Linked DNA regions of Homo sapiens. The protein of the gene in region 5 purifies or fractionates together with the protein of the main gene of each other region. This does not show direct contact. Each region holds a gene or a part of one and is shown on either strand. Other genes may lie near its edges.

The links.
Region 1: the proteins of COX15 (region 5) and SLC25A24 fractionate together in Homo sapiens (co-fractionation; one large-scale study listed by IntAct). This does not show direct contact.
Region 2: the proteins of COX15 (region 5) and ATP2A1 purify together in Homo sapiens (affinity purification with mass spectrometry, with the first as the bait; one large-scale study listed by BioGRID). This does not show direct contact.
Region 3: the proteins of COX15 (region 5) and CLCC1 purify together in Homo sapiens (affinity purification with mass spectrometry, with the first as the bait; one large-scale study listed by BioGRID). This does not show direct contact.
Region 4: the proteins of COX15 (region 5) and LMNB1 purify together in Homo sapiens (affinity purification with mass spectrometry, with the first as the bait; one large-scale study listed by BioGRID). This does not show direct contact.
Region 6: the proteins of COX15 (region 5) and ETFA purify together in Homo sapiens (affinity purification with mass spectrometry, with the first as the bait; one large-scale study listed by BioGRID). This does not show direct contact.
Region 7: the proteins of COX15 (region 5) and RALY purify together in Homo sapiens (affinity purification with mass spectrometry, with the first as the bait; one large-scale study listed by BioGRID). This does not show direct contact.

Annotation. Positions count from the first base shown.
Region 1 is NC_000001.11:108,144,844-108,148,343, reverse strand, and holds part of SLC25A24 (mitochondrial adenyl nucleotide antiporter SLC25A24), read left to right. Parts: coding exon 1-65; intron 66-3,500. UniProt on the Homo sapiens protein: Electroneutral antiporter that mediates the transport of adenyl nucleotides through the inner mitochondrial membrane. Originally identified as an ATP-magnesium/inorganic phosphate antiporter, it also acts as a broad specificity adenyl nucleotide antiporter.
Region 2 is NC_000016.10:28,895,488-28,898,987, forward strand, and holds part of ATP2A1 (sarcoplasmic/endoplasmic reticulum calcium ATPase 1), read left to right. Parts: intron 1-2,512; coding exon 2,513-2,638; intron 2,639-2,745; coding exon 2,746-2,964; intron 2,965-3,500. UniProt on the Homo sapiens protein: Key regulator of striated muscle performance by acting as the major Ca(2+) ATPase responsible for the reuptake of cytosolic Ca(2+) into the sarcoplasmic reticulum.
Region 3 is NC_000001.11:108,956,985-108,960,484, reverse strand, and holds part of CLCC1 (chloride channel CLIC-like protein 1 isoform 1 precursor), read left to right. Parts: intron 1-3,500. UniProt on the Homo sapiens protein: Anion-selective channel with Ca(2+)-dependent and voltage-independent gating. Permeable to small monovalent anions with selectivity for bromide > chloride > nitrate > fluoride.
Region 4 is NC_000005.10:126,832,636-126,836,135, forward strand, and holds part of LMNB1 (lamin-B1), read left to right. Parts: intron 1-58; coding exon 59-166; intron 167-3,500. UniProt on the Homo sapiens protein: Lamins are intermediate filament proteins that assemble into a filamentous meshwork, and which constitute the major components of the nuclear lamina, a fibrous layer on the nucleoplasmic side of the inner nuclear membrane.
Region 5 is NC_000010.11:99,722,128-99,725,627, forward strand, and holds part of COX15 (heme A synthase COX15), read right to left. Parts: intron 1,997-3,500; coding exon 1,829-1,996; intron 1-1,828. UniProt on the Homo sapiens protein: Catalyzes the second reaction in the biosynthesis of heme A, a prosthetic group of mitochondrial cytochrome c oxidase (CcO). Heme A is synthesized from heme B by two sequential enzymatic reactions catalyzed by heme O synthase (HOS) and heme A synthase (HAS).
Region 6 is NC_000015.10:76,301,470-76,304,969, reverse strand, and holds part of ETFA (electron transfer flavoprotein subunit alpha, mitochondrial), read left to right. Parts: intron 1-3,500. UniProt on the Homo sapiens protein: Heterodimeric electron transfer flavoprotein that accepts electrons from several mitochondrial dehydrogenases, including acyl-CoA dehydrogenases, glutaryl-CoA and sarcosine dehydrogenase.
Region 7 is NC_000020.11:34,070,411-34,073,910, reverse strand, and holds part of RALY (RNA-binding protein Raly), read right to left. Parts: intron 1,846-3,500; 5' UTR 1,837-1,845; coding exon 1,581-1,836; intron 349-1,580; coding exon 276-348; intron 93-275; coding exon 45-92; intron 1-44. UniProt on the Homo sapiens protein: RNA-binding protein that acts as a transcriptional cofactor for cholesterol biosynthetic genes in the liver. Binds the lipid-responsive non-coding RNA LeXis and is required for LeXis-mediated effect on cholesterogenesis.

The DNA.
Region 1 (3,500 bases), on a different chromosome or scaffold from region 5:
TTGAGAGATTTATTTCTGGTTCCATGGCTGGAGCAACTGCACAGACTTTTATATATCCAATGGAGGTGAGTACCATTGTCAAGTCTGACTGTGTGATGGTGTTCGTGTTGGTTGTCTATTGCTCTCTAACAAGTTATCCCAAAATTAACAGTTTAAAACAAGCATTTATCATCGCACAGTTTCTCTGGGTCAGGAATCTGGAAGCAGCTTAGCTGGGTGCCTCTGGCTCAGGGTTTTTCACAGCCCACAGTCAAGATGGTAGTCAGAGCTTGGAATCAGCTGGAGGCGGATTCCAAGCTCACTCATGTTGCTGCCAGGCCTCACTGGCTATTGGCTGGAAACATCAGTTCCTTATCACGTGAGCCTTTCTGTAGGCTGCCTGAGTATCCTCAAAACACAGTAGCTGGCTTCCCTAGAGTCAGTGGTCCAACAGAGAGAGAGAGAGAGAGTGCCTAAGATGAAAGCTGGTATCTTTTGCCTCTTCTGCTGTATTCCATTGATCACACAGACCAACCCTGGTAGAGTGTAGGAGGGGCTGGTATAATGGTGTTAATAACCGGAGACAAATATCACTGGGGGTCACTTTAGAGGCTGGCTGCCACTTTAGAGGCTGGCTGCCATTCCTGTCCAAAGAGTTTCTGTACCATAAATTTAATAATGGAATCTCAGGATTTGATTATATGGTGATTATCCTAATTAGACATCCTTTCATTAGTGCATAGGTTGGCAAAACACAGACCTACGGACTGTTTCATACAGCCCTTGACCTAAGAATGCCTTTTACATTTTTAAAAAGTGGGCAACACAGGAAAAAGTGAGAAAGATCTAAAATCGACACCCTAAGATCACAATTAAAAGAACTAGAGAAGCAAGAGCAAACAAATTCAAAAGATAGCGGAAGACAAGAAGTAGCTAAGGTCAGAGCAGAACTGAAGGAGATAGAGACACGAAAAACCCTTCCAAAAATCATTGAATCCAGGAGCTGTTTTTATGAAAAGTTTAACAAAATAGACAACTAGCCAGAATAATAAAGAAGAAAACAGAGGAGAATCAAATAGACACAATAAAAAATGATAAAGGGGATATCACCACCAATCCCACAGAAATGCAAACTACCATCAGGGAATACTATAAACACCTCTATGCAAATAAACTAGAAAATCTAGAAGAAATGGATAAATTCCTGGACACATACACGCTCCCAAGACTAAATCAGGAAGAAGCTGAATCCCTGTATAGACCAATAACATGTTCTGAAATTGAGGCAGTAATTAATAGCCTACCAACCAAAAAAAACCCAGGACCAGACAGATTCATAGCCGAATTCTACCAGAGGTACAAAGAGGAGCTGATGCCATTCCTTCTGAAATTATTCAAACAATAGAAAAAGAGAGATTCCTCCCTAACTCATTTTATGAGGGCAGCATCATTCTGATACTAAAACCTGGCAGAGACACAACCAAAATAGAAAATTTCAGGCCAATATCCCTGATGAACATCAATGTGAAAATCCTCAATAAAATACTGGCAAACTGAATGCAGCAGGACATCCAAAAGTTTATCCACCATGATCAAGTTGGCTTCATCCCTGGGATGCAAGGCTGTTCAACATATGCAAATCAATATAACGGAATTCATCAATAAACAGAACCAGTGACAAAAACCGCATGATTATCTCAATAGATGCAGAAAAGGCCTTCGATAAAATTCAACACCACTTCATGTTAAAAACTCTCACTAAACTAGTTATTGATGGAATGTATAACAAAATAATAAGAGCTGTTTATGACAAACCCACAGCCAATATCATACTGAATGGGCAAAAGCTGGAAGCATTCCCTTTGAAAACCGGCACAAGACAAGGATGTCCTCTGTCAGCACTCCTATTCAACGTAGTATTGGAAGTTCTGGCCAAGGCAATCAGGCAGGAGAAAGAAATAAAGCGTATTCAGATAGGAAAAGAGGAAGTCAAATTGTCTCTGTTTGCAGTTGACATGATTGTATATTTAGAAAACCTCCTTGTCTCAGCCCCAAATCTCCTTAAGCTGATAAGCAACTTAAAGCAAAGTCTCAGGGTACAAAATCAATGTGCAAAAATCACTAGCATTCCTATTAACCAATAATACACAAACAGAGAGCCAAATCACGAGTGAACTCCCATCCACAATTGCTACAAAGAGAATAAAATACCTCGGAATACAACTTACAAGGGATGTGAAGGACCTGTTCAAGGAGAACTACAAACCACTCCTCAAGGAAATAAGAGAGGACACAAACAAATGGAAAAACATTTCATGCTCATGGATAGGAAGAATCAATATCATATCATAGGAAGAATCAGTGGCCATACTGCCCAAAGTAATTTATAGATTCAATGATATCCCCATCAAGCTAACATTGAATTTCTTCACAGAAATAGAAAAAACTACCTTAAATTTCATATGAAACTAAAAAAGAGCCTGTATAGCCAAGACAATCCTAAGCAAAATGAACGAAGCTGGAGGCATCACGCTACCTGACTTCAAACATACTACAAGGCTACAGTAACCAAAACAGCATGGTACTGGTACCAAACAGATATATAGACCAATGGAACAGAACAGAGGCCTCAGAAATAACACCACACGTCTACAACCATCTGATCTTTGACAAAAACAAGCAATGGGGAAAGGATTCCTTATTTAATGTATGGTGTTGGGAAAACTGGCTAGCCATATGCAGAAAACTGAAACTGGACCCCTTCCTTACACCTTATAAAAAAAAAATTAACTCAAGATAGATTAAAGTCTTAAACATAGACTTAAACTATAAAATCCCTAGAAAAAAACCGAGGCAATACCATTCAGGACACAGGCATGGACAAAGACTTCATGACTGAATCACAAAAGCAATGGCAACAAAAGCCAAAATTGACAAATGGGATCTAATTAAACTAAAGATCTTCTGCACAGCAAAAGAAACTATCATCAGAGTGAACCGGCAACCTACAGAATGGGAGAAAAATTTTGCAATCTATCCATCTGACAAAGGGCTAATATCCAGAATCTATAAGGAACTTAAGCAAATTTACAAGAAAAAAAAACCCACCAAAAAGTGGGTGACGGATATGAACAGACACTTCTCATAAGAAGACATTTATGCAGCCAACAAACGTGAGAAAAGGCTCATCATCCCTGGTTGTTAGAGAAATGCAAATCAAAACCACAATGGCATACCATCTCACGCCAGTTAGTTAAAAAGTCAGGAAACAACAGATGCTGGCAAATATGTGGAGAAATAGGAATGCTTTTACACTGTTGGTGGGAGTGTAAATTAGTTCAAGCATTGTGGAAGACAGTGTGGCAATTCCTCAAGGATCTAGAACCAGAAATACCGTTTGACCCAGCAATCCCATTACTGGTTATATACTCAAAGGATTATAGATTTTTCTACTATAAAGACACATGCACACGTATATTTATTGCAGCACTGTTCACAATAGCAAAGACTTGGAACCAACC
Region 2 (3,500 bases), on a different chromosome or scaffold from region 5:
TTTTTTTGTATATGCAAAATGCTCATTGCTACTTTATTTAATATAACAAAAAAGCGGGCCAGACACAGAGACTCACGCCTATAGTCCCAGCATTCTGGGAGGCTGAGGTGGGAGGATCACTTGAGCCCAGGAGTTTAAGACCGGCCTGGGCAACATAGTGAGACCCGCATCTCTACAAAAAAAAACGAAAACAAAAACAAAGAAAGAAAGAAAAAAAAAAGAAAAAAATTAGTTGGGTGTGGTGGTGCAAAACTGTACTCTAGCTACTAGGAAGGCTAAGGTGTGAGGACTGCTGGAGCCCAGGAGGTCAAGGCTGCAGCAAGCAGTGATTGCACCACTGCACTCCAGCCTGGGCAACAGAGGGAGACCCTGTCTCCAAAATAAACAAACTGAAAGCAACTTAAATACCTGTCAATAGAGGACTAATTTTTAAAATTTATAAATGATAATGCAAACATAAATTTTTATTTATTTATTTTTGAGATGGGGTCTTGGCCTGTCGCCCAGGCTGGAGTGCAATGGCTATTCATAGGTGTGATCACAGCGCACTGCAGCCTTGAACTCCTGGGCTCAAACCATCCTCCTGCCTCAGCCTTCCAAGTAGATGAAGCTACAGGCATGCACCACTTTTCCTGGCTACTGATGTTTTGTTCTTTTTATTTTTGTTTTATTTTTTGGAGAAGTATCCATGATACATTTGGTGAAAAAGGCTTTCATTCTTTTTGTTTGTTTGTTTGTTTGTTTGTTTGTCTGTCTGTTTTGAGAGTCTTGCGGTGTCACACATTCTGGAGTACAGTGGCATGATCTCAGCTCACCACAACCTCCGCCTCCTGGGTTCAAGCAATTCTCCTGCCTCAGCCTCCCTAGTAGCTGGGATTACAGATGCAAGCCACAATGCCCAGCTAACTTTCTGTATTTTTAGTAGAGACGAGTTTTTTTTTTTGAGACGGAGTCTCTCTGCTTTGCCCAGGCTGAAGTGCAGTGGGGCCATCTCGGCTCACTGCAACCTCCGCCTCCTGGGTTCAAGCAATTCTCTTGCCTCGGCCTCCTGAATAGCTGAGATTACAGGCATGTGCCACAACGCCCAACTAATTTTTGTATTTTTAGTAGAGATGGGGTTTCCCCATGTTGGTCAGGCTGGTCTTGAACTCTTGACCTCGTGATCTGCCTGCCTCGGCCTCCCAAAGTGCTGGGATTACAGGCGTGAGCCACTGCGCCTGGCCTTCATTTTTTTTTTTTTTTTTTTTGAGACAGAGTTTTGCTCTTGTTGCCCAGGCTGGAGTGCAATGGTGTGATCCTGGGTTCAAGTGATTGTCCTGCCTCAGCCTCCCGAGTAGCTAGAATTACAGGCACGTGCCACCACGCCTGGCTGATTTTGTATTTTTAGTAGAGACGGGGTTTCTCCATGTTGGTTAAGCTGGTCTACTACTAAAAAATACAAAAATTAGCTGGACATGGTGGCGTGTGCCTGTAATCCCAGCTACTTGGGGGGCTGAGGCAGGAGAATGGCTTGAACCTGGGAGGCAGAGGTGGTAGTGAGCCAAGACTGCACCACTGCCCTCCAGCCTAAGCAACAGAGCAAGACTCCATCTCAATATAAATAAATAAAAATTAATTCAAATTAAATAATATACAGAGTACCTCCAATGCTCCACAGCAATTGCTCAGTTGCACCAATTGTACAGTGCAGATCACATAACATTTCTATCATTACTAAAAGTTATAGGGCCAGGTGTGGTGGTTCATGCCTGTAATCCCAATGCTTTAGGAGGCCAAGGCAAGAGGATTGCTTGAGGCCACGAGTGAGACCAGGCTGGACAACACAGGGAGACTCTATCTCTAAAACATTTTTTTAAAATTAGCCTGGAGTGGTGGCATACACCTGTGGTCCCAGCTACTCAGCTGGCTGGGAGGCTGAGGCAGGAGGATTGCCAGAGCCAAGGCTACAGTGGGCTATGATCACGTCATTGTACTTCAGCCTAGGAGACAGCGCAAGACTCTGTCTCTAAAGAAAAAAATAAGTAAATAAAAATAAATAAACAAACAATGAAAGTTTTTTTTTCTTTTTTCTGAGACGGAGTCTCGCTTTGTCGCCCAGGCTGGAGTACAATGGTGCGATCTTGGCTCACTGCAATCTCTGCCCAGCTAATTTTTGTATTTTTAGTAGAGACAGGGTTTCACCATGTTGGCCAGGCTGGTCTCGAACTCCTGACCTCAAGTGATTCACCCGCCTCAGCCTCCTGAAGTGCTGGGATTACAGGCATGAGCCACCGCGCCTGGCCAATAATGAAAGTTCTGTGGGACAGTGCCACAATAGGCCATCCTTTTCTTCTGTGCTTTAACCTAGGACCCTGAAGCACTGTGGCAACACTAGCCTTGGGATTTTCTCCTTTTGTGCTATAGGGACCAGACTTAGTGTTAGTCTCAGCCTTAGCTTGGGGTCTGCTCTGACCTCCAGATTCTTTTTGACCATTTTAAGAGGACTGGTCTCCCCTCCCTGTCTCCTCTCCAGGTGATCCGCCAGCTAATGAAGAAGGAATTCACCCTGGAGTTCTCCCGAGACAGAAAGTCCATGTCTGTCTATTGCTCCCCAGCCAAATCTTCCCGGGCTGCTGTGGGCAACAAGATGTTTGTCAAGGTCAGAAATCGGAATGTGCCTCAGCCCCCTCTTCTTCCTACTCCTAGCCACCTGTCACTGCCCTGGAAGGAAAGTGGTGGTCTCTGAATGCTGTTCTGGTCTCCTAGGGTGCCCCTGAGGGCGTCATCGACCGCTGTAACTATGTGCGAGTTGGCACCACCCGGGTGCCACTGACGGGGCCGGTGAAGGAAAAGATCATGGCGGTGATCAAGGAGTGGGGCACTGGCCGGGACACCCTGCGCTGCTTGGCCCTGGCCACCCGGGACACCCCCCCGAAGCGAGAGGAAATGGTCCTGGATGACTCTGCCAGGTTCCTGGAGTATGAGGTAAGCAGCTGGGAGCCTCCCACTGTCGTGGAGCTGGTGAAGGGCCGGGTCCCAGCCATCCACTCACAGCTCCACCACCCGGATCATTTCCTACCTCGTCAGTCAAGTTGATGGCTCCTTAGTACAGGCCATGGAATCACAGGACAGTAGAGTTTCAGAGAACCTTGGGAGGCCGGGTGCAGTGACTCACACCTGTAATCTCAGCACTTTGGGAAGCTGAGATGGGAAAAGCGCTTGAGCCCAGGAGTTCAAGACCAGCCTGGGCAATGAAGTGAGAACCCCATCTCTATTAAAAAAAAAATTTTTTTAATTACCTGGTTAAATTCATAGGGGTCTGGGTAAAAAGTAAAATACATTTTTAAAAATGTTAAAAGAAAAGAGATGAACTGGACATGGTGACACACACCTGTAGACCCAGCTACTGGGGAGCCTGAGGTGGGAGGATCACTTGAACCTAGGAGTTGGAGGCTGCAGTGAGCCATGATCCCACCACTGCACTCCAGCCTGCATGACAAGCAAGGCCCTGTCTCTAAAAA
Region 3 (3,500 bases), on a different chromosome or scaffold from region 5:
TCTCACTGTCATTCTCTGAAAGGTCATAAATGGCCAACTAATTAACCAATCCAATGGCTTTTTTCCAGACTTTGTTCCTCTCCACTTCTCTGAAGTATTGAATACGCTTGATACCACTTTCTTGAAATTAAGTCCCTCCTTAGTTTTTGCCCATTGCATATTTTGGCTTGTCTTCTATTGCCCTGATTAGCCTTCACTCTCCTCTCTGGTATTTGCTTCTTCCATGGCTTTCTTCCTTAGTTGAACTCTTAATTTTTTCCAATAAAGTATACAGTTATTCAGTATTTCTAAGTATCTCCAGAGCATAACAGTGATTTTAGTGTTTTTTGTTTGTTTGTTTGTTTTTTAATTGAGTCAGGGTCTTGCTCTGTCACCCATGCTGGAGAGCAGTGGCGTGATCTCGGCTCAGTGCAGCTTCAACCTCCCCGGCTCAAGTGATCCTCCCACCTCAGCCTCTCCAAGTAGCTGGAAATATAGACGTATGCCACCACACCCAGCTAAATTTTGTTTCAAGTTTTGTAGAGATGGAATCTCCCTAAGTTGCCCAGGCTGGTGTCGAACTCCTGGGCTCAAGTGTTCCTCCTGCCTTGGCTTCCCAAAGTGCTGGGATTACAGGCGTGAGTCGCCACAACCGGCCAGAAACTATTGTTCTATTTATTTTGTGCAGAGCTTTGGTTGTTCAGGCAGGAGGGTAAATCTGGTCCCTGTTACTCCATCTTGGCCAGGAGTAGGAGTTGGGGAAGTGCTTTGGGAGTATAGAGTCCCCCCTTTACCCTTGGAGTATACATTCTAAGATCCTAGTAAATGCCTGAAACTTCAGATAGTACTGAACCTTGTATATATTCTATGTTATTTCCTATACATCTATTCCTCTGCTAAAGTTTAATTTATCAGTTAGGCACAGTAAGAGATTAACAGCAATAACTAATAAAATAGAAAAATTATAACAATACACAATAATAACAGTTATGTACTGTGGCTGGAATTTTTTCACTTGAGGTGCGACAGCAAAACTAGCATGAATTTCTTTCTCCTCCTGTACAATTTCATGGATACAAGTTTTGTTCTTAACATAGATCTTAGCAACCTCATCATATGAGCTTTTTTTTCTTTAATTTTTTTTTTTCTTTTGAGTTGGATTCTCACTTTGTCACCCAGGCTGGAGTACGGTGGTGTGCTCTCAGCTCTCTGCAACCTCTGTCTCCCAGGCTCAAGCGATTTTCCTGTCTCAGCCATTCAAGTAGCTGGCATTACAAGTGTGTGCCACCATACCTGGCTAATTTTCATATATTTATTTATTTATTTATTTTGAGACGGTGTTTCACTGTTGTTGCCCAAGCTGGAGTGCAATGGCGTGATCTCGGCTCACCTCAACCTCCGCCTCCCGGGTTCAAGTGATTCTCCTGCCTCAGCCTCCTGAGTAGCTGGGATTACAGGCATGTGCCACCACGCTCGGCTAATTTTGTATTTTTTTGTAGAGATGGGATTTCTCCATGTTGGTCAGGCTGATCTCAAACTCCCGATCTTGGGTGATCCGCCCACCTCGGCCTCCCAAAGTGCTGGGATTATAGGCATGAGCCACTGTGCCTGGCCTATTTATTTTTTGAGATGGAGTCTCGCTCTGTCGCCCTGGCTAGAGTGCAGTGGTGTAATCTTGGCTCACTACAACCTCCGCCTCCCGGGTTTAAGCAATTCTCCTGCCTCAGCCTCCTGAGTAGTCAGGACTACAGGTGCTTACAACCATGCCTGGCTAATTTTTTGTATTTTTAGTAGAGACGGGGTTTCGCCATGTTGGCCACGCTGGTCTTGAACTCCTGGGCTCAAGTGATCCGCCTGCTGGGCCTCCCAAAGTGCTGGGATTACAGGCATGAGCCACCACGCCCAGCCCTTTATTAAGTTGAGAACTTTCACTTTTTCACTTAAAGGAAGCACTTTATGGCTTCTCTTTGACATATCTGAATTGCCAGCATCGTTACTACTGTGCTTTAGGGCCATTATTAAGTAAAGTATAGATTCCTTGAACACACGCACTGAGATACCACAGCAGTCGTAACCCAGATGGATACTAAGTGACTGGAGTGTGACACCTACAGTGTGGACATCGTCCCATGTGGGATGGAACAGGACAGGAAGAGAGTTCCTCACACTATCCAGAGCTGTGCATAATTGAAAACTTAGGAACTGTTTACTTCTGGAATTTTCCATTTAATATTTTCAGACTGCAGTTGACTGTGGGTAACTGAAACCTCAGAAAGCAAAACCGTAGATGGGGTTACCACTGTAGAGTTACTGTGTTACCTTGATCCAAAACCTTTACCTGAATGATTCCTTTAACCATTCCCGGTAGGCTTTCTCTGTTAAAGCTGCTGTACCAAATCCAGGGGTCAGTTTGCTGCCCTCTGATCGCCTGACCTCTTAGCGGCATTCAACATATTTGTCTGCTCTCTCCTTTCTTCACTTGGCTTCTGAAATTCCAACCTCTCTTGGTTTTCTTCCTGCCTCATAGCACTCACTAGAATTATCTCTTGCTGGTTCCTCCTCTTCTTTCTGATCCCCGAATGTTGGCTTGCCCAGGACTCAGTCTTTTGTCCTCATAATAAATCTTCTGGTGATCTTACCCAGATCATCTCTTTTAAACCCCGTCTACATTCTGATCGTTCTCAAATGTAGTCCCACTGCTCTCCTTAGCTTCATCCTGCATATTTATAATCTCTACTTGGACATCAGTGGACACTTCAGATTTACTATATCCAAACAAAACTCTTGATCTTTCAGAACTTGCAGTCTTCTTCAGTCTTTTCCCTTCTCCCAGTTGCCCTGGCCACAAACATAGAAATCGTCCCAAATCTTCACTTGTCCTTACCGACATCCAAATTTTCAGCAATTTCTATAGTGTATTTCTGTATTAGAGTAGCAAGAGATGTTATAAGAAATAAACCCCTATATCTCAGTATATGCCATAAATGAAATTAATTTTTGCTCACATGAAAGTGAAAAGCTATATTCCCACTTAGTGGGTGGCCTTCCAGGTGGTCATTTAGGGGCCCAGGTGCCTGCATAGTTTGGCTGCCCTCCTCCAGGGCTCAGTGTCCTGGGAATTCCCTGGTTGGGAGAGGGCAGCTGGGAGGTTTTCATGGGCCAGACTTGGATGTGGTGCATATCCCTTCTATCCGTTGGGTTGGCTAGAACTTAACTATTACGTGGCCATACTTCACAGAGAGGCTGAGACATACAGTCATCATTTGTCCAGAAGGAAGAAGAAATATGCCTAGTGACCTATTAGCTGGTCATTTTGCCAGATGTAGTAGGGTCTACCTACAGATTTTAAAAGTCTGACCATTTGTCATCACCTTTGCTGCTGTCTTTAGCTCATGTCACCTTCATCTCTGAAGTGGATGACTACAGATCTTCCTAACCTCCTGATAATCTTCCATTCTAATCTCTACATAGTAGCCATAGTAATGTCTTTTAGAATGTAAACCAGATTCTATCACGCCCCT
Region 4 (3,500 bases), on a different chromosome or scaffold from region 5:
TCCCCCGCATTTGGTGATTTTAAGTGTGTTTTTTAACTTAAACTACTATTGTTTTTAGGAGGTTGCTCAAAGAAGTACAGTCTTTAAAACAACCATACCTGAAGAAGAGGAGGAGGAGGAAGAAGCAGCTGGAGTGGTTGTTGAGGAAGAACTTTTCCACCAGCAGGTATTACTTTATTTATTTAATATATTTATTTCAAATTTTATTCACAGAATTACATGAAGACCAAGAGTGTGGTTGGGTTTTTCCCCTATCAGTTGATGAACCAGCGCAGTTATCTACCAAGTGGGGTTTGTACTCCCCAAAGGGATATTCAAGGTGATACTTTAGGGTACTGGAAGAATATGTTGGCACTTTTATTTTTATTTTTTCTCATTGTACCAAGTTTCAGTTTTGTCCTTTGTTTTCTAATGTGCATTATGTGTTACAGTAAAACATGTCTATGGATTGGATGTTTACTCCAAACTTGTTTACTCTGTAGGGTCCTATGATTAAAAGGTTTAGATCACTAATTTAGAGCAAGAATCTGCATATAAACTTTAAAAAAACAAAGTAATATTCAACTTCAGTGTGAAACAAAATTCTTGCTGTATTAAGTTCCTAATCATTATCTAATTGAAGATAGATTTTGGCTGATGGTTGGGCTTTTGAGAGCCCTTGAAATAAAGAAACTCCAAATTTGGTTTTAATTATAATTAAATTGGAATTATTAATAACTAATGAGCCTTCAGTTTATATTCTCAAGCTGTTTGAGTCCGATCATTAATCAAAGTGTCTACCCTTATCCTGATAAGACTTTGTTTCCATGGCTCCAGATTTTTAGTCTTAAGTCTGCTTTGCTTCATTAGCCCTAGTCCTGGTCTAAATAAACACTGTCTCATATATTTAACCCCCAGGGTTGAGAACCACTTGAGGTGGGTTGCATGAAGTAGCATGAATTTTTTACCTGGATGCCTTCTCATACATTTTGGAGGAATATTTTAAAACACATATGTTACACTTAACTTACAAGAAACAAGCACAAGTTCCATTTTCTGTGCTTCAATGGGAACCATCGTAATTACTAGAAGTAAAATAATTATGTAAGAGATAACTCAAGGCACCAGACAAGAGGGTCAGCATGAGTTATATAGCATGTCAGATGCTAGAGGAGGTACTCCAGGCCAGCAGAGTAGTTGAGAAGAACTCTGTGAGGTGATGCTTGTCCACTAATTTGAAGGATGGGTGATTATTTGGTTATTGGAGAGAAGGCAGATGATGGTGCTCTGAGGATGTTGGAATTCACCATTGCTTCACTAACAGACCACCCCAAAGCTTAGTGGCTTAAAACAGTGATTTCTTACTTCCCATAATTCTGTGGTTTGACTGGGCTCAGCTGGGCAGTGTTTCTGTTCCACATGCTGCAGACTGAACTCAATCGAGCAGGCTGTGTTCAGCTCAGAGGTTGGCCTCGGCTGGAATATCTTTTAGGTCTCTTTCTGTGTGGATTTCTATGATTTAAGAGTTTAGTCAAAGCTTTATAGCATGGCAATTGTCTAACAGAGTAAGTGGAGGGTACAGGTTTCTTTCTTTTTTCTTTTTTTTTTTTGAGATAGAGTCTTGCTGTGTCGCCAGGCTGGAGCGCAGTGGCGCAATCTCAGCTCACCGCAACCTCCACCTCCCAGGTTCAAGAGATACCCCTGCCTCAGTCTCCCAAGTAGCTGGGATTACAGGCATGCGCCACCACGCCTGGCTAATTTTTTATATTGTAGTAGAGATGGAGTTTCACCATGTTGGCCACGACAATCTCAATCTCAAGAGAGTACCAGGTTTCTTAAAGGGCCCTTTGTAACATTCTCTTAGTCAAAGTCATGAGGCCAGTCCAGATTCAAAGTGGGGGTAAATAGTCTCCACCTGTTGGTGGGAGGAATGGCAAAGAATTCATGGTGATCTTTAACTCACTACAGAGGATGTGTAAAGAATGTGGCCGGGCACGGTGGCTTACGCCTGTAATCCCAGCAGTTTGGGAGGCAGGCAGATCACAAGGTCAGGAGATCGAGACCATCCTGGCTAACACGGTGAAACCCCGTCTCTACTAAAAATACAAAAAATTAGCCGGGCGTGGTGGCGGGAGCCTGTAGTCCCAGCTACTCGGGAGGCTGAGGCAGGAGAATGGCGTGAACCCGGGAGGCGGAGCTTGCAGTGAGCTGAGATGGCGCCACTGCACTCCAGCTTGGGTGACAGAGTGAGACTCTGCCTCATAAAAAAAGACTTAATGCACCAACTATATCCGCTCATCCAGTTATTTTGTAGGGTTCATGTGAGAGTTAAATGAAGTTGAAAGATTGGAATTAAACTGACATAGTCTGGAATGCTTAGGGATGTAGCTTCTGTACAATTTGGAACAAAGGAGAAGTTAAGACTGCATTTTAAAATATCACTGGCCAAGCTGAATCAGAGGGACTAACTCTAGAGAGGAGATTCCAGAGGCAGTGAGGGAATATATAATGGAAATTTATTAAGGCTTAGTGACTAAACTTGAGGGTGAGAGAAGAAAAAAAATAAAGATGTATGAGGTTTTTAGCTTTTGTGATCACAGAAACTAATGATACCAAGGTTCATAAGAGGGAAGATGGAAGGGCAGAACAGGCGTTTGAACTTCATATTTGAGGATGAATCCAATCGCCTTTTGAATTGATTAGAAATATTTTGGTGACCTTCAAAAAACCAGTTTTAGTTCAATCAGTGGTGAGTCACAAGTCATATTGTGAGGTTATATGAAATTAATGAGTGATAAAGAAATGGGTAGAGGAGCCATGTTGACTTCACCTTGGAGGACAAATCCACTGCAGATGGCTTGGGATGTGTAAGTTCAGGATCTAGCAAGCTGTAGTCTCCGATGTGGTTGTTAAAAGCTGATCCACTGATCTCCTATTTCCTAAGTTATCAAAAGAGGTTATTGAACAATGGTTTTCAAATTGAGCTGCACATTAGAATTACTTTAAAATTATATATAGATAGCTACCCTTTCCCAGTAAAATGAGAAATTCTTATTTGATTGATCAAGGGACCTAGATCAGAATTTGTTTTAAACTCCTCAGGATCTGAATGTGTAGCCAGAGTTGACAATTACTGTTCTGGAATTTGTTGGGGGGTATTCTAGAAAGAAGTCCATAAAAGAAGGTTAGAGGCCAGATACGGTGGCTCACGCCTGTAATCCCAGCACTTTGGGAGGCCAAGGGCAGGTGGATCACTTGAGGCCAGGAGTTCAAGACCAGCCTGGCTAACGTGGTGGTGATGCACACCTGTAGTCGCAGCTGCTCGGGAGGCTGAGGCATGAGAATCGCTTGAACCCAGGAGGTAGAGGTTGCAGTGAGCCAAGATTGCACCACTGCACTCCAGCCTGGGCAACAGAGTGAGACTCTATCTCAAACAAACAAAGAAAAAGAAAAAAAGAAAAGGTTAGAAAAGATGAGAGATGATAAAGGGTCCATTTGAGGTTAGGTAATATGGTTTGGTA
Region 5 (3,500 bases):
AGTGCTGGGATTACAGGTGTGAGCCACCGTGCCCAGCCTTAATTAGTTAAAATTTAAATAGCCATATGTAGCTAGTAGCTACTGTGTTGGACAGCATAGCACTATATGGCTCATTGGGTAGCATCTCAAATCCTTTTTGTAATTAGGTGAATCTAAACTAACAGAGAAAAACAATTGATAAAGTCATCAGTAACCTTTAAGAGTACAATTTCAGTAGCAAGAGTGTGTGGGTTTATGTGTAAGTGTGGGTAAATGTGTGAGTGTGTATGTATTGGGTTGGGTGAGGAAGATAATTACAGGGACTGAAAAGAAGGAATAGATTGTCAGGAAGCAGCAGCTATAGATGCAGGCAAAATGAATTCATTAAGATGAATTCATTTTAGAAGTCTGAATTAAAATGAATTCATTTTAGAAGTTTGGCTTTGATGGGCACGGTGGCTCACACCTGTAATCCCAGAACTTTGGGAGGCCGAGGCGGGTGGATCACCTGAGGTCAGGAGTTTAAGAGCAGCCTGGCCAACATGGTGAAACCCTGTCTCTACTAAAAATACAGAAAATTAGCCGAGCATGGTGGTGTGCGCCTGTAGTCCCAGCTACTCGGGAGGCTGAGGCTGAAGAATTGCTTGAACCCGGGAGGTGGAGGTTGCAGTGAGCCAAGGTCACACCACTGCACTCCAGCCTGGGCAACAGAGCAAGACTCCATCTCAAATAAATAAATAAATACATAAGTAAATAAATGAAGTTTGGCTTTGAAAGTCAGGAGACTTTCAAATAATTCCTTATTTTTCAGATGTGGAATTATTCAGTGGTTGTCTACTGTATCAATATTTCAACCCAATTTGGCTTCTCTGTGGGAATGACTGCCAAGACAACACGTCCAGTCCTTACTGGGATCTAGCTACTAGCTCCAAGTACCTAATGGATGATTCGACTTAAGAGTCCTGCTGTCATCTCAAACTTTTCTCCAGGAACAGCTTACTCAGGTCAACCCATGATTTCAATACCTAATATAAGACTCTTTTTTTTTTTTTGGAGATGGAATTTCGCTCTTGTTGCCCAGGCTAGACTGCAATGGTGCCATCTCAGCTCACTGCAACCTCTGCCTCCCGGATTCAAGCAATTCTCCTGCCTCAGCCTCTCGAGTAGCTGGGATTACAGGCATGTGCCACCATGGCTGGCTAATTTTATATTTTTAGTAGAGATGGGGTTTCTCCAGGTTGGTCAGGCTGGTCTCAAACTCCCAACCTCAGGTGATCTGCCTGCCTCTGCCTCCCAAAGTGCTGGGATTACAGGCGTGAGCCACCGCGCCTGGCCAAGACTCATTTAAAAAAAAATTCTAGGGAAAAAAATGTCCTATAAGGGTGTGGTGTCTTGGAACCTCTATTATTAATGAAGGCCTCAAAAAAATGTTATACCTTGCTTTTAAATCAAAGCATAAAATGAAAAACTAGTACTTTGCTTTAATCAGCAGACAGAAAAATACTTCAGACAAAATCACTAAGGTTTACTATTAGACTTAACTGGCAGGTCCCCATTTAACGAACAATATAGCTCTTGTCCACACCAGAAGTTCAGAAACACCTCTGTTCTGATCTTTCTCACTTTGCCATCCACCATCCCTTCTAGGAGTCAGAGGTAAAGCGACTGGGATATTTCTTGTTGTTGGTACTCCCTCCCACTCTATTTTTCAATTTGTTTCACCTTTGCCAATAGAAAATGTTGGCAAAATATTCAACTCCTATATGATCCAGCAATTCTACTTCTAGATATATATCCAAAAGAACCAAAAGCGGGGTCTTGAACACAGATATTTGCACACAACTCTTACCTTGTGCGGAGGGAGTAGCAGTGACAGTGAGGTCCACAAGCTGGCACAATAAAGAACCAGGGCTGATCCCAGGTGGGCAGCAAGGCGGTACTGACTGACCCGAGGGATGTCATGGGAGTCTGATTTTTCTTCTAGTCCACTTTTCACCATATACCATCCCAACAGACCCTAGAACCCCCAAGAGATGAAGCAAACAAAACAAGGTTAAAATGATCTGTTCAACTTTCTTTTTTTTGTTGTTTTTTTGAGACAGAGTCTCACTCTGTCACCAGGCTGGAGTGCAGTGGCGGGATCTTGGCTCACTGCAATCTCCGCCTCCCAGGTTCAAGTGATTCTCCTGCCTCAGCCTCCCAAGTGGCTGGGACTACAGTTGCGCATCACCACGCCTGGCTAATTTTTGTATTTTTAGTAGAGATGGGGTTTCACCATGTTGGCCAGATGGTGTCAATCTCTTGACCTCGTGATCCGCCCACCTCAGCCTACCAAAGTGCTGGTATTACAGGCGTAAGCCACCACACCCGGCCTGATCTGTTCAACTTTACTGAGGAAATGAGCTATCAGGAGTACTCTCTACCCCACCCCTCCTCTTTCCATACCCTCCCCAATACGCAGTGTCCCAAGATTCATGATTTATCCACAGTTCTTCACATATCACCATTAATACTTAACTACTATTTAGATCAGAAGTGTCTGATCTTTTGGCTTCCCTGGGCCACACTGGAAGAATTGTCTTGGGCCATGCATAAAATACACTAACACTAACAGTAGCTGATGAGCTTTAAAAAAAAAAAAAGGTCCATGGATATATCTCATAAAACTAGATTGAATGTTTTGGAGAAACTTAATAAAGGTAAATGCTTAAAAACATCTACTGTCAAGTTAGGTTGGAATAAGACAATTATAAAAGTTTCAGGGGAAAATCATAAAAATCAATAAGGTTTTGCATGCAGATCGCTTTGCAAATATCTAAGTTCCCACTCCGCTTTAAGCAAAACCACAGTTTATGGGGATATAAGAAACCTGCAGTTGAATGCCAATCTGGGGACGCATAGTCAAAGAAAAGGCCTTGATTTTGTAAAAGTTGGTAATGAACGTACAGATTTAAGTTTAAAAGTTTATGTTATGTATCATATTCTATGATTCTCTGCTTTAACTGGCTTTTTCAATTAACCAAACAATTGTTAGTTCCAATCATATGAAATAAGACAGCCCTTTCACTCCCACTTGCCAGTAGAATCAGGTCAAAGAGGTGGACTCTGCCACTTCTAAATATATACTCTTCAGGAAATCTTTTTGGGCATTTCTCTCCCCTTTCAAGATTACCCTGGATATTCTAATTACCTTGATTTCATCTGCAAGAGACATTGAAAGATGAAGACGTACACAGTTGATTCACTAGCCCACTTTCTTCTCCCATACCTTATCTGACATCTTTAATTTCTGCCTCCCTAATAGTGTTTTCAGTGTTGGCTTGTTTTTCTAATTCTAAAATGTTAACTTTCATTTTGTTCTACATGCCTTTCTCTGGTTACTATTAGACTTTGATTATTGTTTCTGCTGCCTCTATTTCTTCTCTCTCATCTCCCTCCTTAATCCCTTCTTTCTTTATTTATTTTTTTTGAGCCAGAGTCTTGCTCTGTTGCCCAGGCTGGAGTGCAGTGGTGCAACCTCT
Region 6 (3,500 bases), on a different chromosome or scaffold from region 5:
CTGGGTTCACGCCATTCATCTGCCTCAGCCTCCCAAGTAGCTGGGACTACAGGTGCCCGCCACCACGCCCGGCTAATTTTTGTATTTTTAGTAGAGACGGGGTTTCACCATGTTAGCCAGGATGGTCTCGCTCTCCTGACCTTGTGATCTGCCCGCCTCGGCCTCCCAAAGTGCTGGGATTACAGGTGTGAGCCACCGCTCCTGGCCGAGGATTTTCTTTAGATAAAAACATCACTTCATTTTTTAGTTTTGTCTAAAATCATTTATCATTGCTGTATTTTTTCCCCCAATTTTTTTTTTTTTTTTTTGAAATAGAGTCTTACTCTCACCCAGGCTGGAGTGCAGTGGTGTGATCTTGACTCGCTGCAGCCTCAACCTTCTAGGCTTAAATGATCCTTCCATCTCAGCCTTCCAAGTAGCTGGGGCTACGGGAATGCGCCACCACATCTGACTAATTTTTTAATTTTTATCTTTCATAGAAACAGGGTCTTACTGTATTGTCCAGGCTGGTCTTAAACTCCTGGGCCAATTTTAGGTTTGCAGGGTATCTGTGCAGATTTATTATGAGTAAACCGTGTGTCCTGGGGGTTTGATGTACAGATTATTTTGCCGCCCAGGTAATGAACATAGCATCCAATAGGTAATTTTTTGATTCTCACCCTGCTCCCACCCTCCACCCTCAAATAGGCCCAGGTATCTATTGTTCCCTTCTTTGTATCCATAGGTATTTGATGTTTGGCTGCCACTTACAAGAGAGAACATTCCATGTTTGGTTTTTCTGTTCCTGCATTAATTCACTTAGGATAATGGCCTCCAGCACTGTCCATGTTGCTCTAAAGGACATGATCTCATTCTTTTTAATGGCTGTGTAGTATTCCATGGTGTATATATACCACATTTTCTTTACCCAGTCCATCCCTTGCATGGGCATCTAGGTTGATTCCATGTCTTTGCTACTGTGAATAGTGCTGCCATGAACATGCACATGCATGTATCTTTATGGTAGAATGGTTCATATTCCTTTGGGTATATTCCCAATTATGGTATTGCTGGGTCGAATGTTCTAAGTTCTTTGAGAAATCGCCACATTGCTTTCCGCAGTGGCTGAACTAATTTACATCCTCACCAGCAGTATATAAGCGTTCCTTTTCTCTGCAACCTTGCCAGCATCTGTTGTTTTTTGAGTTTTAAATAATAGCCATTCTGACTGGTGTGAGATGTCTCATTGTGGTTTTTATTTGCATTTCTCTAATGATTAGTTAATGTTGAGCATTTTTTTATATGCTTGTTGGCCACATATGAGAAGTGTCTGTTGATGTCCATTGCCCATTTTTTAATAGGGTTGTTTTTTGCTTGTTGATTTAAGTTCCTTATAGATTCTGGTTATTAGACGTTTGTCAGATGCATAGTTTGCAGATTTTTTTTTACCATTCTGTAGGTTGTCTGTTTACTTTGTTGATAGTTTATTTTGCTGTGCAGAAGCTCTTTAGTTTAATTAGGTCTCACTTGTAAGTTTTTATTTTTGTTGCAATTTCTTTTGGAGTGTTCGTCATGAAATCTTTGCCAGGGTCTATGTTCAAAATGCCATTTCCTATGTTTTCTTCTTGGGTTTTTATAGTTCGAGGTCTTACATTTAAATCATTTTTTGTTTGTTTGTTTTTTGAGATGGAGACTTGCTTTGTCACCCAGGCTGGAGTGCAAGGGTGCAATCTTGGCTCACTGCAACCTCCGCCTCCTGGGTTCAAGCAATTCTCCTGCCGCAGCCTTCGGAAGAGCTGGGATTACAGACTCCTGCCACCACGCCCAGCTAATTTTTGTATTTTTAGTAGAGACAACAGGGTTTCACCATGTTGGCCAGGCTGGTCTCGAACTCCTGACCTTAGGTGATCCACTCGCCTCGGCCTCTCAAAGTGCTGGGATTGCAGGTGTGAGCCACTGCACCTGGCAGAAGTTTTTTTGTTTTGTGTTGTTTTGTTTTTAAGTAGAGTTTGGCCTGTGTGGTAGTACACATCTGTAGTCCTAGCTACTCAGGAGGCTGAGGCAGGAGGATCCCTTGGGCCCAGGAATTGGACGCCAGCCTGGGCAACATAGAAAGACACTGTCTCTAAAAATAAAATTTTTTGAAAATAGACTTTATGTTTTAGAGCAGTTTTAGGTTCACAGCAAAATCCAATGGAAAGTACAGAGAGTCTTCCTGGTCCACACACCCACAACCTCCTCCACTGTCAACATACAGCACCAGAGTTGTCCATTTGTTACAATTAATGAATTTACATTGACATCAGCATTTCCCAGAGTCCATAGTTTACATTAGGATTCACTCTTTGTGTTGTACCTTCTATGGGTTTGGACAAATGGATAATGACAGGTATCTACCATTATTATATCATACAGAATAGTTTCACTGCCCCCGCCCCCACTCCCCCTGGAAAAAACAAAACAACAACAACAAAAAACCTCTATGCTTTGTTCTCCTAATCCCTGGCAGTCACTGATCTTTTTACTGTTTCTATAGTTTTGCGTTTAACAGAGTGTCATATAGTTGGGATTAGACAGCATGTAGCCTTTTCAGACTGTTTTTTTTTTCACTAAGTAATATGCATTCAAGGTTCCTCCATGTCATTCTCATTTCTTGTTACTGCTGAATAAGATTCCATTGTATGAATATTTATTCACTTACTGAAGGACATTTTGGTTGCTTCCAAGTTTTGGCAGTTATGAATAAACCTGCTGTAGACGTCTGGTTTTTGTGTGGACCTAAGTTTTCAACTCATTTGGGTACGTACAAAGGAGTGCAGTTGCTAGATTGTATGGTAAGATTATGTTTAGTTTTATAAGCAACTGCCAAACTGTCTTCCAAAGTGGCTGCACCAGTTTGCATTTTTACCAGCAATGAATGAGAGTTTCTGTTGTTCCACATCCTTACTAGCATTTGGTATTGTCAGTGTTTTGGTTTTTTACCATTCTAATAAGTGTGTAGTGGTATCTCGTTTTAATTTGCAATTTCCTAGTGAGCATCTTGATGTTGAGCATCTTTTCATATGCTTCTTGGCCATCTTCTTTGGTGAGGTACCTGTTCAGATCCTTTCCCCCTATTTAAATCAGATTGTTCATTTTTTATGTTGACTTTTAAGGGTTCTTTATTTTTTTTAGATAAGTCTTTTATCAGATATGTCTTTTGCACATATTTTGTCCCAGTCTATGGCTTGTGTTCTCATTCCTTTGATGAAGAGGTGTTTGTTTTGTTTTGTTTTGTTTTGTTTTGAGATGGAGTCTCTCTCGCCTAGGCTGGAGTGCAGTGGTGTGATCTCGGCTCACTGAAACATCCACCTCCAGGGTTCAAGTGATTCTTGTGCCTTAGCCTCCTGAGTAGCTGGGACTATGGCGTGTGCCACCATGCCCAGCTAATTTTCGTATTTTTAGGAGAAATGGGGTTTCACTCTACTGACCAGGCTGGTCTCGAACTCCTGACTTCAGGTGATCCATCGGCCTCGGCCTCC
Region 7 (3,500 bases), on a different chromosome or scaffold from region 5:
CAGCTTGGCTGTTTCATGCCTGGGCACGCCCCTCCCCTGCTCACCTGTCGTAGAAGTCGTCCCGGTAGTAATCATAGTCAAAGATGTAGCCACTGGGGAAACAAAGGGGAGAGGGCTGGAGCTTAGGGACGGCCACTCAGCCCACTTTCCACAGGCCCTCATCTCCAGACACCTCCCCAAGTTCTAGATTCAGCACACTGTCACACCAGCATTTACTCCCTCTGTGGAAAGAGAGAGTCATCCCACCAGACAGACAGACAGTCAGACAGCCCCACCTGTATATGGCAGATGCTGCTCTCTTTAGCCCCTTGGGTCTGTCAGGCTTAGGCTCTCCAGCCATGTTGATGTCTGTGTGGAGGGAGAAGGCAGAGTTGGAATGCTAACATGACAGTGTGCCCACACACATCAACCTCATGCACACGCACAGCAATTCATGTGCTTACACGGTATACACATGGATTCTGCTCACTGATGGTGCCAACAAAGGTCTTCATACATCTAATCTTCAAACATTAGATTCATATCCAGGTATCACATGGATATGCCTGTTTATATGTCCATACACTTTCAGATCCATCCAGGCATGCTCATAAACATGTCCTCCCCCCCGCCCCACCACACACACACGTCGAATATTCCTATATGCATTCTCAAATACACTCATGTAAATGCGTAACACATCAGGTACATGGGAACGCATACACAGAGCCACACTCACACATACATTCACATATCCAGGTAAGAAACTCACACACAGGTAACGTGTATTCTCAAGTACACTCAGTATAGACAACTACCCACATGCAAATGAGCCAATGCACATTCACATGGATGTTCTACCAAACACCTTCATGCCTAGAATAGTCCTTACTACATGAAAAGGTCTCAATAAATACCTGGTAAATGAATATATGTATATCTGCTGACACATTCAAATATGTTCTCTCTCTCACACACACACACACACACACACACACACACTACATCTATACATACAAGGGTTGTGTCCACATATCTCCACATGTTCAGTCAATCCATATACTTCTTGTTCAGGAAAAAACACATACAGATACCCCTTTTCAAACATACACATATACACAGGAGTAAATGCACATGCATGAACACTGTACATACTTCAAGAGAGACCACTAGCATAGTCATATCACATGGACATGACACCAAAACCAAGCGTATTCACACTGTCCTTGTGCTCTCAGGCCCTCCTGCTCGCTCTCAGAAAGGGTTCTAACCTAAGTCATCTGTACCCGGTGTAACAGGCTGTTCTAGGCCACTCTGTTCTCTTTCTCTGGAGAATCTGCATTTTAACTGGAACTGTAAAGCCTGTCACTAAGAAGCTCTGAGAAAGCAGAGACAGGTCAGAAGTGTTTTCCAGAGGCTTCTAAAATTCTTCCCTATAGGGATTAATTTTATAACTATTTAAAACTTAAACATAGCTTATAAATTTATAAAATCTCAGAGCAGTGGTAGCGGTGAGAGAAAGAGAGAAGGGGGTTGAGAACTGGATAGTGATAGCAGCTATTCTAGAGAATACTAGGAGAATATAGTGAAGAGAGGCTTACCCAGGGTCTGCCCGGCCAGCACCCGCCCATTCTCTCCCAGCACAGCTGCCCGGGCATGGCGCTCATTGGAGTACTGAACAAAGGCATAGCCCTTGTGCACAGAACAGCCGGCCACACGGCCATACTTAGAGAAGATGGTCTCCACATCTGATTTCTTCACCAGAGCTGTGTTGAGGTTTCCAATGAAGACTCGAGAGTTGATGGACTTGGGGTCATTCTTGTTGGTTACATTGCTTGCCTGAAGCTTCAAGGACATGGTGCCCACCTGAAGAAAAAGAGCCTCGGTGAAGCTGGGTCCCTGGGCTGGGCTCAAGGACTGCCCACGGCCCATATCCTGGATAAATGAATTGCCTCTTACCTTCCTTAACCCTTATAGCATCCAGCCTACCTGTTCCTGCATCTTGTTTTCTTGTCATATTACCAAGAGTTGCCACATATTGGCTGCTGACCTCATGCCAGGTGCTTTACATACATTCCCTCATTTGTTACTCACATGATATGCAGAACCACAACATTTTACAAGGGAGAAATCTCACATTCAGAGAGACCACAATGTTAGTGAATGGCAGGGCTGGGATCTGACCCCCTGATCTGCTTGACTCTAATTCTTTTGAGTCTACTCCTTTAATGCTCATCTCAAATGTTATCCCATTCAGGATCTAAATTTGAAGATCTTCAATGTAGAACCATGGTCACATGGTATTTGCAAGTGATGTTTACTCTAGACCACCACCATATGATGAAAATTGCAGGGGCCGGGCATGGTGGCTCACAACTGTAATCCCAGCACTTTGGAGGCCGAGACGGGTGCATCACCTAAGGTCAGGAGTTCGAAACCAGCCTGGCCAACATGGCGAAACCCCGTCTCTACTAAAAATACAAAAAATTAGCCAGGCGTGGTGGCGGGTACCTGTAATCCCAGCTACTCGGGAGGCTGAGGCAGGAAAATTGCTTGAACCCAGGAGGTGGAGGTTGCAGTAAGCCACTGCACTCCAGCCTGGGCGACAGAGCCAGACTCTGTCTAAAAAAAAAAAAGAAAAGAAAAGAAAACTGCTTAGTCTGATCCAGACACAGACCTGTCTGAATTGCTACCAACCATTTTGAAAAGGGTATGCTAGCTAAGCCCGATAATGGTTTGAATTTGTGTCCCCGCCCAAATCTCATGTCTAATTGTAATCCCCAGTGCTGGAGGTGGGGCCTGGTGGGAGGTGACTGGATCATGGTGACTGAAATCATGCATTTCCCCCTTGGTGCTGCTCTCATGATAGTGAGTGACTGCTCGTGAGATCTGGTGTTTAGACGTGTGTAGCACCTCCCACTGTCTCTTTTCCTCCTGCCCTGGCCATATGAAGACGTGTCTACTTCCCCGTCGCCTTCCACTATGATTGTAAATTTCCTGAGGCCTCCCAAGAAGCAGAAGCCTGTACGGCCTGCAGAACTGTGAACCAATTAAACTTTTCATTATAAATTACCCAGTCTCAGGTATTTCTTTATAACAGTGCAAGAATGGACTAACACAAAGCCTCACCAGGCACTCGCTGTGGCTAAGGGTGGTATACAATACTGAATAATCCCAAGATCCCACAAGTTAATGTCATGATTACTCATATTTTACCAGAAACTGATTGACAAGTTCATTAACTTACTAGTAATGAGCATTCGAACACAGGTCAGTCTGTCACTAAAGTCTATTTCTTTCAACTTTATCATTTTGCTTCCCAGAGCTAAAGCCAATTTAGATACCACAGAAAGTCAGCACATTCACCTGAGAATTATTTTTAATAAATTTATTTTTTAGTTACCCATATTAATACTAACTCGTTCAAATTTTGTTCTGTTTGGCTTAGAGATGAGACTGCACCTACCCTTTGCTCTCTATATTCTGGCCAGGTCTTTTACCCCAAAGGGCTGTACAAATTT